Linked DNA regions of Homo sapiens: region 1 is linked to region 2. Evidence: fine-mapped expression QTL. A gene starts in region 2. The other region holds a variant in brackets. All regions are shown on one strand. Distances are from middle to middle.

Region 1 (9,314 bases), 26 kb after region 2:
CATGTTATGTTTCTAGGTTATTTAAAATTCTAACTTATTAAAGACATAAAAGTAAATATCCAGTAAAAGCCCTAAAAAGCCCACAGGTAATTCTAATCCCCACTTATGGATCTGTGCAAGCAATGAGTTTATTCTGAGACCAGGAAAAAAGCTTTTTCATCATTTCCTTTTCCTGCTCAGGAAAAAAAATCATTGTACATAATTTAACAAAGAAAGTAGAATTTTCTACTTTCTACTTTAGTGAATTCCCTCAACCGTCTTTAGTAGTGGGGAGAGAAAGCTGTGTTTTCAGGAAAATGTGGTTTGCCAGGCTCCCTTTTTTCTGTCACGGCAGTGATGGTGAGCAGGCTCCTGATAGGAGGGAAAGCCTTCCTCTTCTCCAGCAAGACTAAACCAAAACTGCATCAAAACCCAAGAAACAAAACCAAACAAAGAGGGAACAAAACAGGACTTCCCTTTGCTAGTTCCTGACATAGTTCTCTCTTGTCTGTTCCACCTGTTTTTTCCCTCCTAAGTGAAATGACCCAGTAAGTTTACCAAGTTGAGTATGTCATGCACAGGAATCTCAGATTTCTTAGGCTGGTTTTATCAATTAATTAATGCATGATGTTGTTGGAAACTGTGGTACTCAATTCCAATTACAATGAACTCTAGAGAATATAAACAATTTTAAAACAAGAAACAGTTTTAATAGACATGGTTAGAAACAGGTTGAAAGGAAACCACATTCATTGACTTTGTGGTAACAAGGAGAAAGGATTAAACTCAGAAGGAAATTCTTTGTTTTTTATGTTAACTTCTAGAGCGATGATTTGAGAATTTGTACAACATGAAAGGAAGTGTTTCTTTGACAGCAGGACAAAAGAAATATGTGGCTTTTAGCTACCATCCAGCTTAACTCTTCCCTCTACAGGAAATAATTATAAACCTGTAGAGTAATTCTTTTTTTAAAAAAGAGACATGGACAAGTATTTACTCTGCAACACAAGAGTGCGTTGTAATCAGATTGTCAGAGGTGTTCAAACCAGAGCGACCCTATCCTTTTTTTTTTTTTTTTTTTTTTTGAGATGGAGTCTCACTCTGTCGCCCAGGCTGGAGTGCAGTGGCACAATCTCGGCTTACTGCAAGCTCCGCCTCCCGGGTTCACGCCATTCTCCTGCCTCAGCCTCCCGAGTAACTGGGACTACAGGCGCCCGCCACAACGCCCGGCTGATTTTTTGTGTTTTTTAGTAGAGACGGGGTTTCACCGTGGTCTCGATCTCCTGACCTCATGATCTCGGCCTCCCAAAGTGCTGGGATTACAGGCGTGAGCCGCCGCGCCCGGCCCAGGGCAACCCCATCTTAAATAGGTGCTGGGTAAAATGAGGCTCAGACCTGCTGAATTGTATTCCTAGGAGGTTACGCATTCTTAGTCACAGGATGAGATAAGAGGTCTGCAGGACTGATATCAAAGGATACAGATAATAAAGACCCTGCTGAGGCAGGGTACAGTGGCTCACACCTGTAATCCCAGCACTTTGGGAGGCCAAGGTGGGTGGACCACTTGAGGTCAGGAGTTTGAGACCAGCCTGACCAACATGGTGGAACACTGTCTCCACTAAAAATACAAAAATTAGCCAGGCATGGTGGCACACACCTGTAATCCCAGCTACTCAGGAGACTGAGGTGCTAGAATCACTTGAACCTGGGAGGCAGAGGTTCCAGTAAGCCGAGATCATGTCATTGCACTCCAGCCCAGGCAACAAGAACAAAACTCTGTCTCAAAAAACAAAACAAAACAAAACAAAAAAAACCTGCTGATAAAACAGGATGCAGTAAAGAAGCCAGCCAAAACCCACCAAAATCAAGTGACCTGTGGTCATCCTCATTGCTCATTATATGCTAATTATAATACATTGGCATGCTAGATGGCACTTCCATCAGTGCCATGACGGTTTACAAGTGCCATGACAATTTCCCGAAGTTACGCTATATAGTCTAAAAAGGTGAGGAACCCTCAGTTCTGGGAAACTCATGAATAATCCCTCAGCTCCGCTAAACTCATGAATTGTTTAACGTATGATCAATAAATAACCATAAAAATAGCCAACCGGCAGTCCTCAGTGTTGCTTTGCCTATGGAGTAGCCATTCTTTTGTTTCCTTACTTTCTTAACGAATTTACTTGCACCTTACTCTGTGGACTCGCTCCAAATTCCTTCTTGCATGAGATCCACAAACCCTCTCTTGGGGTCTGGATCAAGACCTCTTTCTGGTAACAAGATCAATAGCACACTGCAGTTGTGGATATTCTGCTGTGATATTAAATATATTATATAAAATCCTTCTTCATAATGGTATTTACTATAATAATATTTTATTTGTAGTATTAAAAATGCTACAGGATCAATCATTTTTACGTTATTTTATGTGTATCCTACATAGCTAGTGATATGGTTTGGCTATGTCCTCACCCAAATCTCATCTTGAATTCCCACGTGTTGTGGGAGGGACCCAGTGGGAGGTAATTGAATCATGGGGGCAGGTCTTTCCCATGCTGTTCCTGTGATAGTGAATAAGTCTCATGAGCTCTGATGGTTTTATAAAGGGGAGTTTCCTTGGACAAGCTCTCTTTACTTGTTGGCCGCCATGCCTGACGTGCCTTTTGCCTTCTGCCATGATTGTGAGGCCTCCCCAGCCACGTGGAACTGTGAGCCCATTAAACCTCTTTCTTTTGTGAATTGCCCAGTCTCAGGTATGTCTTTTATCAGCAGCGTGAAAACAGACTAATACAGCTAGTATACTGTGGGTACTTGGTATTTGTACCAGATGTATCATAGGTGTTCATTAACTGTTGAATAAAAGAAGGTTGATTTGTTTTAGCAAGCCTGTATTAAATAGTTCCTCTAAATTCTTATGTGTTTTTTTTTTTTTGGTAAGACTTAAATGATAATTTAATGTGTTTATCTCTTCCCAACAATGTACCTAGAGATCCCACAGATGTCTAGAACCCATTTGGCAGCTTTCTTAATATTACATTGAAGCACTATTAAGATTAATTCACCTTTTTTTTGTTTTGTTTTTGAGACAGAGTCTCGCTCTGTCTCCCAGGCTGGAGTGTAGTGGCATGATCTCGGCTCACTGCAAGCTCCGCCTCCTGTGTTCATGCCATTCTCCTGCCTCAGCCTCCCGAGTAGCTGGGACTACAGGCGTCCGCCACCGCGCCAGGCTAATTTTTGTATTCTTAGTAGAGACGGGGTTTCACTGCGTTAGCCAGAATGGTCTCGATCTCCTGACCGCATGACCGGCCGGCCTCGGCCTCCCAAAGTGCTGGGATTACAGGCATGAGCCACCGCACCTGGCACCTTATAATCTTAGAAGCCTTGGATACCAAAATTAATTAATAGTGCTTCCCATGCTTCATATATAGGAAAGATTGATTCTCTATAGGTCACTTTTCCAGAGTGAGTTTTCCAAATTAAAGAGAAAAAAAAGCCTGATTAAGCTTTTATCAACTAATAATTCTCCACATTAATCCATGGGATAAATATTAGAATTAGAATACCTGGCTATTCAATTGTCAGTTCTTTTTTACTAAACAGAAACTTTGAGATGTGTTATTTTAGAAAGGCTCGATAGTGACAGAACTTTTCTCTTAAACTTACAGTGGCCCTGAAATTTGCTACCACTGACTTTAACCATACATATTAAAGGTGTAAGGAGATTGAGATATGTGACAGATTCCATTTCCCAAGGATGGTCACACACTATATCCCATCCCATACGCTCTTACAGGGTAATGTTGATACTCCTCCTATCAAGGGGATAGGATTTATTATTTCTTTTCCTTGATCTAAGAGGCTTGTGACCATGGTAGAAGTGTCCCTACATGACTTCTGGGGTTAAGTCAGAAAAGGTGATATAGCTCTGTCTAGTGCTTTTGGACGCTTGATCTCAAAACCCAACCACCATGTTGTGAGGAAGCTCAGCCACATAGCTGGATGTGGGTGTTCCAGACTGCCACTTTGACTGACATCCCAGATGATAGCCAGAATCAATAGGACCTGTGGGTGAAGAAGCCTTCAAGATGACTCTAGCACCAGAAATTGTCAAACTGCACGGGAAAAAAAATCCAAGAGCGAATTATCCTGCTGAACTGAGTAAACCTCCAGAATTGTGAATTAGTAATAAAAATGATTGTTGTTGTAAGCCCCTAAGGTTTAGGGGGATGCTTTATGCAGCAATAAATAACTGA[T/A]GTTAAAGCAAACTAAATACGGCTGGAAAAGGACCCCATATTTCTTTTCTTTCTTTTTTTTTTTTTTGAGACTGAGTTTTGCTCTTGTTGCCCAGGCTGGAGTGCAGCAGCGTGATCTCGGCTGACTGCAACTTTCACCTCCCGGGTTCAAGCGATACTCCTGCCTCAGCCTCCCGAGTAGCTGGGATTACAGGTGTGCACCACCACGCCTGGCTAATTTTTGTATTTTTAGTATAGATGGGGTTTCACCATGTTGGTCAGGCTGGTCTCGAACTCCTGACCTCAGGTGATCCCCTGCCTTGGCCTCCCAAAATGCTGGGGTTATAGGCGTGAGCCACTGTGCCCAGCCAGGACTCCATATTTTATATTTGAGTCCTTGTGGATGAACGGCAACCTAACAGACTGAAAACTTAGCATAGGAGTATGCGTCTGTAACAATAGCTGAGTCTTGGCCAATTCCAGCAGTGTACTTCAACCACTCATATGCTGCTGAGTGTTCAAACTGTGTTTAAATAAGGCAAACGCCAACCTGTAGCCAATCCAGCTGTTTCTGTACTTCACTTTTGATTTCTATACATTACATTTTTTGTCTATAAATTTGTTCTGACCACGAGGCACCCCTGGAGTCTCTGTAAATCTGCTGTGATTCTGGGGGCTGCCTGATTCGCGAGTCGTTCATTACTCAAACTCCTTTAAATTTAATTCAGCTAAAGTTTTTCTTTTAACACTGGGATAAGATAAAATGAAGTTCTATTTAATTCCCTGAGTAGGCTTTGTGGTCTAAAGAAATTCAGAGACAGTACTCTCGATTTTTTTGAGAGAAGATTTTCTTCTGATCACATAGCAACAAACTATGGAAAGAGAAGTCAGGCTGGACTGTTAATTATGTAGCAGTCAGAACTCATCTCTCAGTTCAGTCAAGATTACTGGGAAAACCACAACAGCCTGACAAAATTAGGGGGATACTTCCAAAACCTGGGACATAGGAAAAGCCAATTACAAACTACAGATATGCAAAATATGGTATAACTTTTGGTTTTTAAAATGTTCTTTTTTGTACATAATTGGGCTCATCGAGGGCATAGATTTTTTTTGTTGTTGTTCTGTTTTATTCATGTTGTACTCTCAAGGCCTGGGATCATGCCTGGCACAGGGCTCAATAAATATGTCAAATGAATAAATAAATGTAAACACATTTGTCAGAATAAGCACCAAAATTTATTTCTGGCAGATAGGATTATGTGTGAGTTTTTTTTTTTTTTCTATCTTCTTTGTTTTTTTCTAATTTCTCTACCATGATCATAGATTACTTATATAAAATACTTGTAAAAGGCCATAGAGTTTTATTTTAGAGTAACATAAGCTTTAAAATACCTACACATGCACATCTATCCAAATCTATTTCTGAGCAAAATATCCTTTTAGGAAGAATAGAGGCGCATAATAACAGATCTCAAGAGAAGGCTTTGTGTTGTGTGGGCAGGGCTAGAAATACATGAAGATTTTTTTTGGCCACCAAATGACTTCTCTACAGGTGATCATTGAAACACAGATTTCTGTCAATGGTTGAAGTATTTCACTTATTTTATTTTCTTATTATAATCTCTGTATTTAGCTCAGCTGGGATTCCTTTGGTCTGCCAATTTTAAAAAGTTACATCATCACCTTATTCCAAAAAATGCCCCTAAGAGAAAGTCTCTTGCCCTCACAACTGTTCAAATTTAGGATGGAAAATAGATTTTAGTTTGCATGCCAATTTGATTAATTGTACTCACTGGTGATTCTTAGCATACTCTGTGTAAGATCTGAGGTTATAGTTTTACCTGGTGGATTTGCAATGTCTACCATAAATTAAGTAGAGAGGAGAAGAGGCATGGTTGCCTTGTGAGTGCATGATTCAGTGAGTTACTGTTATCTTAATTTGTTGTGTATTAGATGTTACTTCTTTATAAACTATTGATCCTATTTAGCTTCTCAGGGGCCCCCAAAGATGTCCACATCCTAATCCCTGGAATTGGGATAACAGTGAGTCTTCACTGACCTGAGAGATTAGATGATCACTGATATGTAATTGGCAGTCAAGTTTGACTTCTCTTTCCATTGTTGTTGTTATGTAAATATGTCACATGGCAAAGGAGAATTAAGATGGAATAAGTTTGCCAATCAGCTAAGGTAGGGAGAGAAGCCTGGATTACCTATGTGTTACCAGAAAAGGGATCTCATCCCAGACCACAGGAGTGAGTTCTTGGATCTCACATAGGAGAGAATTCAGAGTGAGTCTCAGAATATAGTGAAGTTAAAATAGTTTCTTAGAAAATACTCTATTACAGAGTAGGGCTTGCTGAGAAAGCAAGAGGAGGAATGTCCCTACCTCAGACATAAGGCTTACTTACATGGGATATTAAGGCTAAGAATAGTGTACTTTATTACAAAAGGTTGTGTTGAGCTTATGACAGACTTAGTATTACTATTCTCTTGTGCAATTATTACTTTTAGCAAGAATTTATGAGGATACTATTACCTTTAGAGGGAAACCTATTTTTAAACTAAGAATGCCTTTTCCCATTAGCTCGTTTCCTCAACCATAAACATCTTGTGATCAATAACGCCTAACTTCCTGGAAATGTAACCCAGCAGGTCTTGCTTTATCTGGCTTTTATTCAAGGTGAAATCACTCTGGTTAGGATGTCTCTGACATAGGTGGGCACATTGTAATCACAGGGTCCTTAGAAGTGGAAGAGGAGCCGGGTGCAGTGGCTCATCCCTGTAATCCCAGTGCTCTGGGAGGCTGAAGCTGGGGGGATCGCTTGAGACCAGGAGTTCAAGACCAGCATGAGCAACAAAGAGCTCTCCCCCATCTCCCGCCCCTTGTTCCTCCCACCTCACCATCCCCCTCCCCCAGGCTCTACAAATGTTAAAAAAAATTAGCCAGGCATGGTAGTGCACCTGTGGTCCTAGCTACTTAAGAGGCTGAGGTGGGAGGATTCCTTGAGCCCGGGAGGACAAGGCTGCAGTGAGCTATAATCACACTACTGCACTCAGCCTGGGTGACAGAGCAAGACCCTGTCTCAAAAATATAAATAAATAACAATGAAAGTGGAAGAGGAGACACAAAAGAAGTCAGAGGGACTCCTTTTGTGACAACAGGAAAGAGACCCAGAGAGTTGGTAGCATAAGGACGCTGCTTGACATTGCCAGCTCTGAAGACTCATGGAGGGAGCCAAGAGTTAGGGACGGAACTCTAGAAGCTGGAAAAGGCAAAGAAACAGATTCTCCTCTTGAGTCCTCAGAAAGGGATGCACCCTGTTGGCACCTTGATCTCAGCCCAGTGGGATCCATGTCAGACTTCTAATGCACAGAACTATAAGATAATAAACTGGTATGTTTAAGCCACCAAGTTTCTGGTAATTTATTAACAGCTGCAAGACAAAACTAATTCACAAAATATGGCTTATTCTACCTTTAAAAAGGAAAATGTGACTCAGTCCTCTCCCAACTGCTGATCCATTGGCTTTTCTGGATGCTACTTTCAAATTCATTGCTAGTTTCTTCTCATAATTGTAGGATCGAGTCTCTCAACCTAAATATTACTTTTAGTGGCAAAAACTGCAATTACTTTTGCACCGACCTAATATGTTGTAGTAAATTGTATGAGAAGCAAGCAGCTTTTATCATTGCTGATAAATGGCCTTTTAATCTCCCTTCTTTCCAAATAATTCTTGTCTATCTAGTCAGACCACAAGTCATTAAGCAATTAAAAGACAATATAAAATAAAGCATTTGAAATTCAAGCACTCTAGGCCAGGCATGGTGGCTCACGCCTGTAATCCGAGCACTTTGGGATCGCTGAGCACTGATTGCTTGAGCCCAGGGGGTGGAGGTTGCAGTGGGCTGAGACTGGGGCACTGCACTTCCAGTCTGGGTGACAGAGCAAGACTCTGTCTCAAAAAGAAAAAACAAACAAACAAAAGAAATTGGAGCGCTGTAATGTAAAAAAGGAGAGAGGTTAATATTAGCTAGAGTTACTAGCTATGGCTTTAAGGAAAAACTATAATCACTGAATATCAGATTTATAAAAAATAGTTATTAAAAGAACCAACTATCAGTTCATAAGCATTATCTTATATAATTGATAGAACAACCTTATAAAGTAGGAATTATTGTCTCTATTTTACACATGAGGATATCAAGGTCTAGTCTAGGAATTAACTTGTTCAAGTAGGATTATAGAAGTTCTTTGGATACAGTTAGATAATATTTTCCTTTGGGGTAAAAAGATTTGATTTCTGACCTGTTCTCTCAAATCTGTAGTTTAATGACATGATACACTTTTTGAAACAGTGGGAATATGTAGATGGTTGCTTTAATCTCAGGAACTATGATTGCTTTTTAAGAGGCAATAGCCCTAATATTTAGTAATAACCAAAGCAATGTCTATAGCAATGCTTCTCAAATTATGTGGCATTTTAGGAGCACCCGAAGAACTTTAAAGAGTCCCAATGTCCAGGCTACACTCCACACCAGTTAAATGCAAATGTTTGAAGTGGATTTAGACCTCAGTGTTTTTTTTTAAAGCATCCAAGGAAATTCCAAGTTTGGGAACTCTTGATCTATAACCAGGGATTGCATTTTTGTTAGTTTTCTCCCCAGCATTTAACTGGTTTATTGTATGTAATATTCAGTTACATGAGATTACATTTTTTTTTAACCACCCTGTTTTGAGGAGTCACCAGAAAGTTGTTTCTCGAGATTAGAAGCTTAATGAAATTCAGGTTGTGTTCAACTATAGATTCATTTTTAATGGGTTTTGGATTTCTGAGCCTGCTGGTGATATTTCCTAACATTTTTTCTTAATTTGTGTGACATATATATATATATATATATATATATATATATATATACACACACACATTTTTTTTTTCCGTTTGGAACCCTTCCAATGCCTTCACTCTCTGTACTTTCTCTATTTTTTTTTCCCCCTGTGGATTTCATCTGACTGGAAGTACTTTTTCTATTTATATCGCTAGTACATGTTTAAAGAATGTCTATCATTCTAGTCTATTACTATTAAGTTGGTCATAT
Region 2 (9,314 bases):
CAAAACTCCCATATCTGACAGGCACAGAACATTAAGGGTTGAGACTATTCAAATGACCTGAGAATTCTCAATCCTTGAGTTACCAAATTACACACACAAATTACACACCTTCCTCTCCATCCAACTAGCGGTCAGTAAGTGGTCTCTGTGCACCACTCTCACACCCAAACTGCTACTTTCAACCAAAAAGCTTTTTATTACCCCTCTCTGCTAACCTAAATCTAACCCCACTGAAGGAAAACTCTCTTCTAATCTAGTGAACACTCCTGTGTGTACCTCAGCCTCACCATTCTTACTACTTCTGTATTCTGCTACCACTCGTGTCTTCAACTTAGAGTGCAGCAAAATTCGACACAGATTTGAATCACTATCTGCCAAATCCCATATTGTAATTAAAATGCAACTATGCTATAAGCTCAGTAACCCTGATCCCCAACATCTGCCATAGCAATCCACAATCTGTGCAAAACTACAAGTTATTTAATTATTCAAACAATTTAATATTTGCACGATTTTTTCATGGAATCAGACCTAGATATATATGCTGAGACTCTTGTTTATTTGCCAAATGATCACAGGTTGTTCATTTGATCTGCTAGTTTTCTCATTTTAAAAATGGGGACAATGCTTATTTATACAATAAGGCAGTTTTTAGATTAAACAATATATGCAAAACACCTAGAATAGTGTCTGCCACATGACAGGTAATAATTACAAATACTTCTATAAAGCTTAATATATGCTTTACTTATGTTTATATTACCTCATTTAATCCTCATAACAACTAAAGTAAGCACTACCACTATTCTCATTTTATGAGTGGGGAAACTGAGGCATAGAGCTATTAAATGACTCATAACTGTGAAACCAAAATAAAATTATCAATTCAACTTAAAAATGAATACCAATAAAATTCCAATTCAAAATTATTTCACTGATGTTTTGCTAAACTAAACCCCTGGTAGCAATACAGATGTAGTACCGACCTCCATGGCTATGGCATAGGTTCTTCTTAAGCTGAGTAGTTCCTGCACTGCCGTGTGCTGGATGAGGATTCAATTCTCTCTGCTTATTTTCTTTTGGAAGTACTGTGAAACCACCATGAAGCCCTCTTTCCTATAGTGAACTGGGAAGTAATTTGGCCCTAATGTATTACATGGTGTCTGTTCTTATTAGTCGAAGACAATAGTATTGTTGGCACAATAAGATTGTAAACAAAAAAACAAGGAACCTGATATCCTTTCCAGATCATTCACCATGTACTTCTATTAGTTCTTCCTCTGTGACTTACAACAATAAAATTTTTAACAATCAGAAATTGTGCCTGTGGTAAAAAGGAATTTGAAAAGGAAAAAATATAAAAAAAAGAAATTGTGCCCAGCTTCTCCACTATCCAGACTGAGAAATATTCCCTTAATTCAGGATTCTTAACCCAAAGGCCACAATTCCTTTTAATTCTGGGGGTTGGGGAACTTGGTACCACATACTTTATGTTACGTCATTTTGAGAAGGGGTCTGGAGGCCTCACAGGAGTGCCATGATATAAAAAGTCAGAAACCCCACCTAGGTAATCAAAGATCCAGAGGTGTCTGGGGATCCCCACCCAACAGAACCCAAGGGATGGCATGCTGGCAGTCAGGGTAAGGTGCCTTGAGGAAACCTGTGAACATCTGCACAGAGAAGAAAGCTGGCCTCCAGGCAAGGTCTAGGAAACGCTCTTCAGGTGTGAGCCAGCTCTCTCCTGAAACAGACTTTCACTGATAGCCTTTTCCCACATATATTCAACCAAGTGCACAACTTTGTCTAATTACAAGGAACTACTCCCAGGCTGGGCTGGGCTTTGTACAAGTATCAACAGGCCTTATGACAACCCTGCAAGGCATGTGCCACTACACCCATTTTACATGATGAAGTATTGAGGCCAAAGAGTAAAGTTAATTTGCCCAAGGGCATCAAACCAATGGGTACTGGAGTTGAGGTGTGAATTTGGTCCTGCCTGGCTTCGTTCCTCCCCCTTTCAGCCATGCCTCCTCTCCCATAGGGGGCTCCCTTTTGGGGTTCATTTGATTCACCTCACTTTTGACAAAGAAGAAAACCTAGAGACCCAGATCACTATAGCAATTTAGTGTCAGAGTTGCCTCTGGACTCAGGCTTCTAAAACTCCTCATTTATTGCTGTCCTCTACTCTACACCAACATTCTTGCTGTTTTAGGATAAAATTCAATCTCCCCCAAATCCAAGTGATTTTGCAATTTCATCAGGACAGGCCTCCAGCAAGTACTGCTTTCAGCACAGTACTTAGCCTATACCAGTATCAATCAATATTTGTTAAATACATTCGGAGAAATGCATTAAAAATTTATGATACGAACTTTAGATCAAATCTGCAAACAAATACCTATTGTGTGAGTCAAATTATATTTTTGTTCCCTATAATCACAACCTTATTCGCTCCTTCTTTCAGTCAATTGTCCAAGGTACCCAAGCAAGCACTGTGAGTTTCAAAGACTCATGTGATGCAGGTCTGGTCTCAAAGGTAACACAGAACCAAAAGAGCAAAGAAAACTACAATGCAGAGGAGAAAGGACCCAGAGAAATACTGACAAAGTATCAGTGACAATGGACGAGAGCGATGACCCCAGGAGTACTGGGGGAGACCACTTAGTACTTCACAACATTCTTTGTAGCTTGGCATGCAGTTCTGAAACTATGTTAGATTCTCCCTTTCAAAATCTATCACCCAATTCTTTCTTGAAAAACGTGAGTCAAAGTACAGCCAACTTTGTGGCTGTCCTATTTGAATTCTTGGCATTTTATGAGGAGAGTTTTAAAACAGGTTAATTGGAAAAGTCAAGAACTAAATACGACGATTTTCGCTGCCCGGGTTAAAAAATTACTAACTGCCCCCGCCCCACCCCCCCACCCCCCAAAAAAAATTCTGTACCGAAAAGCATTTATAAAGGGAAAATGTGCTTGGTTTGCAGACTGCAAATAAAACAGGTTAAACATTTTGGGTAGCCATTTAAGTAAAAATCGTTTAACAAATGTCCTGGCTTAGAAGGGGGAAAGGGATCCGCCGGTTTAGAAAGCCCGCCCCCGCCCCCAGGGGGTGCCTACGTGGAGCTCCTGAATCTGGCTCTGGAGAACCCAGAATGTGATTCGCAGGACCTGTCGCATAATTTCACAACCAAGCATTCTTGCATTCTTCTTTGTACCTGAATCGTAGAAAGTTCTGGAAAAAGCTAGGAGTAAGTGATTGACATTCCCTGCTGTTCCTTCAACATAGAGGGGTTCGGTGCTGGGTGGGCAGACACCACCAAACAATGGGGATGCCAGGAGCCCGGTACGGCGGCAGGAGCAGTACCCTGGGCTCGGGGGGATGTAGAAGCCCCATTCCACCCCTAGGGGACAGAACCCAGTAAGGTCGCCCTCGGTGCTCACCACACTCCGGGCAGAGGGGGCCCTGAGACTCCGACCCCCACCCCAGAGAGAGCCTGCCGCTGGACGAGGGGACCGACGGCTGCTAAGAGGCGGATTAGCAGAAACGCGAAACTCACAACCCGCCTCTCTCCCAGAGAAACCAGTATGGAGAAATTAAAGGTCATATAAGATTATTTACCTGCCCCGCGGGCCTGGGATCCCAGGGCATGGCCTGGACGGCCTCGGGGACAAGGGCAGGTGTGTTTGGGGGATAAGAGAGAGAAAATCTGGGGCGCAGGGATGAGAAGGCTGGCAGGGGCACAAATGCGGACCGGGATGGGGATGTCGGAGGAGACCGGGGCGCGCCGGCCGGGCGACAGCACGACCCCGGGAGGCGGTGGAAACCCCCTGCAACTCCCGCCCCGGGGTTGGCGGCGCCGCGGAACCGCCCCACCGCCCCTACTCACTTGAGTCGGAGGCGGGAGCACGTACCGCAGGCGGAGCTAGCGAGGCTGGGCTGGAGGGAGGGTCCAGGGAGTCCGAGATCCCAGGCGAAGCGCGCGCCGGTGCCTTTTAAAGAGCGCTCGGTGGGCGCGGCCTGTGTCCGCCCCGCCCTCCTCCCAGCCCCGCCCGCCGGATTCCCGGAGCCGCTTGCCGGGCTGGGGCGTGTAGCGGGCGGGCTGCCCTCTGCCCGCTCCGGGCTAGCCACCAGGAGACAAAAGGCAGGAGGCCCGCCTCTTCCTGCAGCTTCCCGCCCGCCCGGCATCTTCCCACGTCCCGGGACCGCTCCCTCCCAAAGGGACCCGGCAGTTCCAAAAGCCACTGGGACTTGGAGAGGGACTTCCTTCCCCTCCAGGGAGGCCCGGCGGCGGGACGGTCCCGCTGGAAAGTGGCCCCCGCCGCCCTGCGTCGGACCTGTCCACCGCGAGCGCCGATCCCCCTCTTCGCGGAGACAGTCATGGGCCGGGAGGCTCCAGCAGTAGAAAGTCAGCCAAACGGGGCTTTCCGCCACCTCCCCCTTGCCTTGTCCTTGTCAGTAAACTCAACGTGATTAACTTCCCTAGTTAACGCATATTCTCTCGTCCGATTTCCAGCTTCTGGGAATCCACAACTTCTTATTCTTAAAGAGCAAAATTCATCTAGACTAAATAAATGACGTTACGAAAACGCCCCATTCCCAAAGTGTTTCGCTCTTCCCCTCCACCAGGGCACAGCACGCGATGCTGAGGGGGAAGAAACCTAAACCCAGGCAGAAACCCCGGGCGCCACAGGCCCTGTATTTATATGTGTTGATGTCAGAAAAGCACAAGGATACCGTGACATCCGAAGGGACCTAATGCCTAAGCTACAGGATGATTTATTGTTTTAGATGAAAAGGAAAATAAACAATGCAATCTCTATCTGGTTCATATTCTAGGCCTCCTCATGACCTCTCCTGCCAGAAGCAATGATCCCGGAGAACTGATACTTGCGGAGTGGGGAGTTCAAAAAAGTCAGTGACCAAAACCCCCTCATGCCATAAATGCTATTGCCTCCTCTGGTCCAGAGTTTCTCATCCTCCACACCATTGACATCTTGGGCTGGATAATTCTTTATTGTAGGGGGCTGTCCTGTGCATTGTAGGAGGCCTCCACCCACTAGATGCCAGTTGCAACCTGCCCCCGACGTTGTGACAATCAAAAAGTCTCTGGACATTGCCAAATGCCCTCTTGGGGAGAGGGCAGGGAGCACATATCCGCATGACAACGTACAGAACCGACTTATAATATTATTATTGTTTTATTTTATATGCTGGGGCCAATCCAGGATAAACTCATTATAGCTGCCTTGTTCTCTGTCCACCAAGTACTGTCCAAAAACACATAGTGGTGATTGACATCTCCTGATACTGTGGCAGGAGTCTGGAAAGCATTCTTGCCTGCTGTGAGCTTTTCTAAATATGGGCAATCCTTATTTCAGTGATATCAGCTAGTGTAAGTGACTTGACTCACGGGCCAACAGGAAAATTCAGTCCCTCAGATTCTACATTCGCTTTAGCTCAGCTGCTTACAATGTTTATTTTTTCTTGTATAAGTTTGCCTAGTGCTTCTACTGAATGAAACTGTATCAGTGAGTCTCACTGCAGCAAACCACTGCCCTTTCTCTCCTACCCTGAGTTCTTCTCAATGCCTCTTTGTGGAAGGGGCCTCCCAAACCTGAGCTGTTTGCTTTCCGTCAAGCTCATGTTGTCCCTAAATTCCATAGCCATGTCTTATCATTTGAAATTGGGCTTGTTGGCCGGGCGTGGTGGCACATGTCTGTAATCCCAGCTACTTGGAGGCTGAGGCAGGAGAATCACTTGAACCTGAGAGGTGGAGGTTGCAGTGAGTGGAGATCACGTCAATGCACTCCAGCCTGAGTGACAGAGGGAGACTCCGTCTCAAAAAAACAAAACAAAACAAAAAAGAAATTGGGCTTGTTTCTGACCTAAAAGTGTTTCTGCTGTCTGTCCCTGTATGTGTTTGTCTCCGTGTACTTCACACTGAGTCTGCAGATGATATACAACGTGTGATTTTGAACAAATCTGTATTTGTATTTATCAACATTTAAAAAATATTTATTTTCTTTAAACATCTATTTAAACTGTTGACTCTTTTAGTTATGAACATGAAGAAATTATTTAAGAGTTTTTAGACAGAGTGGTGCAAAAGAAAGAGTATGGGCTTTGGAATCAAACACACATGATTTCAACATACAGCTCTGCCACCTATCAGTTTTGTAAGCTTGGGCTAAGTACTTGACCTCTATGCATCTGTTTCTTTATCTGTAAAAAGATAATTCTACACATCTTGTAGTGTTGTTATGAGGATTAAATTGGGTGATGTATGTAAAATGCCAAACATAGCACCTGGCACATGGTAAATACTGAATAATTGATGGTTGTTATGTTAAGCAAAGATATCTTGATGTCCTTTTTGCCTCTCAAGAAAGAAATAAAATTGTGCTTTGCTAAGTACTCATGTTGCCTTCTTGAGGGCTTGCTATTAAGAAGGTATGGAGTGTTTTCCAAAACAATTAAGAGTCTTCAGTAGGAAGCATCTGCGCGCCTGCAGAAGGATAGTGGGAAAAATGTGTCCTCAAGGAGAAGGATAAACCCTTAAGTCCACATGGTCCTAGTCTGTTTGACCCCTTCAACCTTGTAATAGGCAGAATCAAAGGTTAAATGTGTCCAGCAGGCTATTTCTTTTTCCCACTCAAAATGTGTATTATACTTGTAACAACTCTATTCTCTGGAATTCATCAACCAATTTCAAATCAAAGCCCTCTCTCAAGGTCACTGTCCTAAGGCAAGTTGAACCAAGGTTGTTGCCTTTTGTCATGACCTTGTGCTTCAAACGTAGATTTTAAAAATATTTTTATTATTTTTATTTCATGCCCCTTTTTCTTAACAAAACTCTGAATCAGATGAATGTGAATTTAAACACAAAGCCTCTTTATTTTAGGGCAAGGCTTTCTTCCCAGAAGGCAAGAAAGCTATAGTGAAGAGGAATGTCTTATTATAATGATTTTAGTATGAAAAAAAGGGAAACAATTTGCACTTTGCTAACCTACACATTTAATAACACAAAAAGAAGCAGTTTTTCTACCTTATTTCTTAGCTAAGATTTAGCAGCAGTTGTGGGAATTAAAAATTACTCATACTTAACCCTAATACTCTGTGATTTATTATCTGACAGAGAAAAGAATAATGTAAGTGATATATGCTTAAATGTTGGAAGGTAGATTAGAGTATCTTATTCTTGATATTTGTCATAGTTGCTTTTTTTAACCTGCTATAAACTCCTACTTTCTTATACTTGCTTCATTTCCTAACTCTCTTTCTCCAGTAGGCATTATTTTCATTCAGTGCTATTATCTTCTATTATGATGTTATTTATTTCTTCTTTTCAACCAGAGCTTTCTATCTTTTTGAGCTCTGCTTCTGCTTTCATATTATAGCAGAGTTTTTCTAGTTCTACTAGTAAGAAAGACACCATTAACTTCCCAGACAGCATATTCTATCCATCTTATCTTAACCCCTTAATTCCTTTATCTCACTTTTCTCCCTCTTTTTCAGCTGGTGACATCACCTTCTTCTCCTTCATTCACATTCACAGCCAGTCACCAACATTTCCTCAACCTTCCTCCACTTTGCCTCGAAGCTTCCATGTTTTCTCCTATGTTTGTACTTGCTGTCCCTGATCTTGGAGGAGCAAATGGTTCTCCCACTCCCTACCAACAGTGTCCACTCTGCCTAGGCTTTTGATCCATTTCTTTGGCATTTTTTAGTTATACAGTCATGTGCCACTTAGTGATGGGAACAGGTTCTAAGGAATGCATCATGAGACAATTTTACCATTATGCCAACATTGTAGAGTATACTTACACAAACCTACACCATATGGCCTAAGGTATAGCCTATTGCTCATGGGCTACAAACCTGTACAGCATGTGACTGTACAGAACACCACAGGCAATGGCAACACAATAGTATTTGTGTATCTAAACATATCTAAATATAGAAAAGGTACAGCAAAAACACAGTATTGTAGTGTTACAGGACCACCCTCATATTTGTGATCTGTTGTTGATTGAAAATCTTCATGTGGCACGTGATTGTACTCCCTTGCTGTTCAATTTCAGGCTCTATTGCTTTCTTTCCTTTCAAATGACAAAAATTCTGCTCACCCCGTATTTTTAAAAGCTGACATAAATATCCCTGAGTCGTGTAGTAGGTATTTGTGATTGCCTCTGTAGCATCCATTCCTCTCTGTGTGGTTTCAGGCATGTGAGTTCATGGTCCTGTTTCAGGGTGGAGCACTGGATCCAGTCAAGGCATTTGAGGCCCCGGCTTGGGGATGGTAAGCACGTGACCTAAGCCCATCCAATTAGAGTGAATCTCAGAACTCTGCTGGGGTGCGGAGTCAGAGCCAAGCTAGCCTATTCTGGAATGTGCTATGTGCATGGAGGAGGCCTTAGAGTGGTTGCAGTCATTTTTGCTAGGAACCTGGCCACGGATGACTTGACACAGACAAGAGGACAGAGAAAACAGAGCTCTGAACAAGTATTCACCAAGTTTACCTACCTGCAGGGCTTTTTCATTATGGGAGCCAATGAGTCCCCATTGCTGTTTAATCCATTTTGAGATGGATTTTCTGTTACTTGCAGTTAGGACTCCCAACAGATTGTGATGGCTTAAAATCATGTCCATGGATTCTTTGTTACTCCCCCCTTCAACAGGTAGAATTTAATTCATGCCCTTACCCTTGGGTGCGGGCTAGATTTAGTGCCTTGCTTCTAGAAAATAGAATGAAGTGCATGATTTTGAGACTAAGTCAAAAAACGCTTTGTGACAACTTTTTCCTCATTCTTCCCCCACCCTTTTCTTTTATCCATCCTCCCCCATCTCCAACATCCTGCCAACATGTGTGTGTGTGTGTGTGTGTGTTTCATCACTGCTATGGGGAAAGCCAGCTGCCATGTCAGGAGGACACTCAAGCAGTTAAGAACAGTGGCCTGTGGCCAACAGTCCCAGAGGAGCTAAAGCCTTCTGCCAACAAAAATATGAGTGAGCTTGGAAGGAGATATTACAGTACAGTACTGTCAAGCTTTGAAATGACTCCAGCCCTGGCTGACACTTTGACTGCAACCTCGTTAGAGATACTGAGACTCTCACTGTGGTCATTGGAGAGTTCCTAATTGCCAAACCCCCAACTGCTATTTTTCAGTCCTTACCCTACTTGACCTCTTAGTAATTGGACAACATTGAGTAAACATATGATTGTGTATACATGCACAGAATGAAATATTTTAGAAGGATGACACTTCTGAAATTTCTCACAAATGTTAACTTCTGTCTCTAGCTACTGTTCTGA

Evidence for each region.
Region 1: its variant is fine-mapped to the expression of CSRP2 in tibial artery (GTEx, PIP above 0.99). The same link has a PIP of 0.9 or more in spleen.

Annotation. Positions count from the first base shown.
Region 1 is chr12:76,901,386-76,910,699 of GRCh38, forward strand. No RefSeq gene overlaps it. Among named protein-coding and RNA genes, the nearest start is that of CSRP2, 27 kb to the left of the region's middle. The variant T/A (reference allele first, on the strand shown) is at 4,233.
Region 2 is chr12:76,875,051-76,884,364 of GRCh38, forward strand. CSRP2 (cysteine and glycine rich protein 2) reads right to left here and starts at 3,969. Exons shown (of 6, transcript NM_001321.3): 1 at 3,888-3,969. LOC124902971 (a long non-coding RNA gene) reads left to right here and starts at 3,309. Exons shown (of 2, transcript XR_007063380.1): 1 at 3,309-3,600; 2 at 4,838-6,415. RefSeq lists silencers at 3,729-4,158, 4,189-4,238.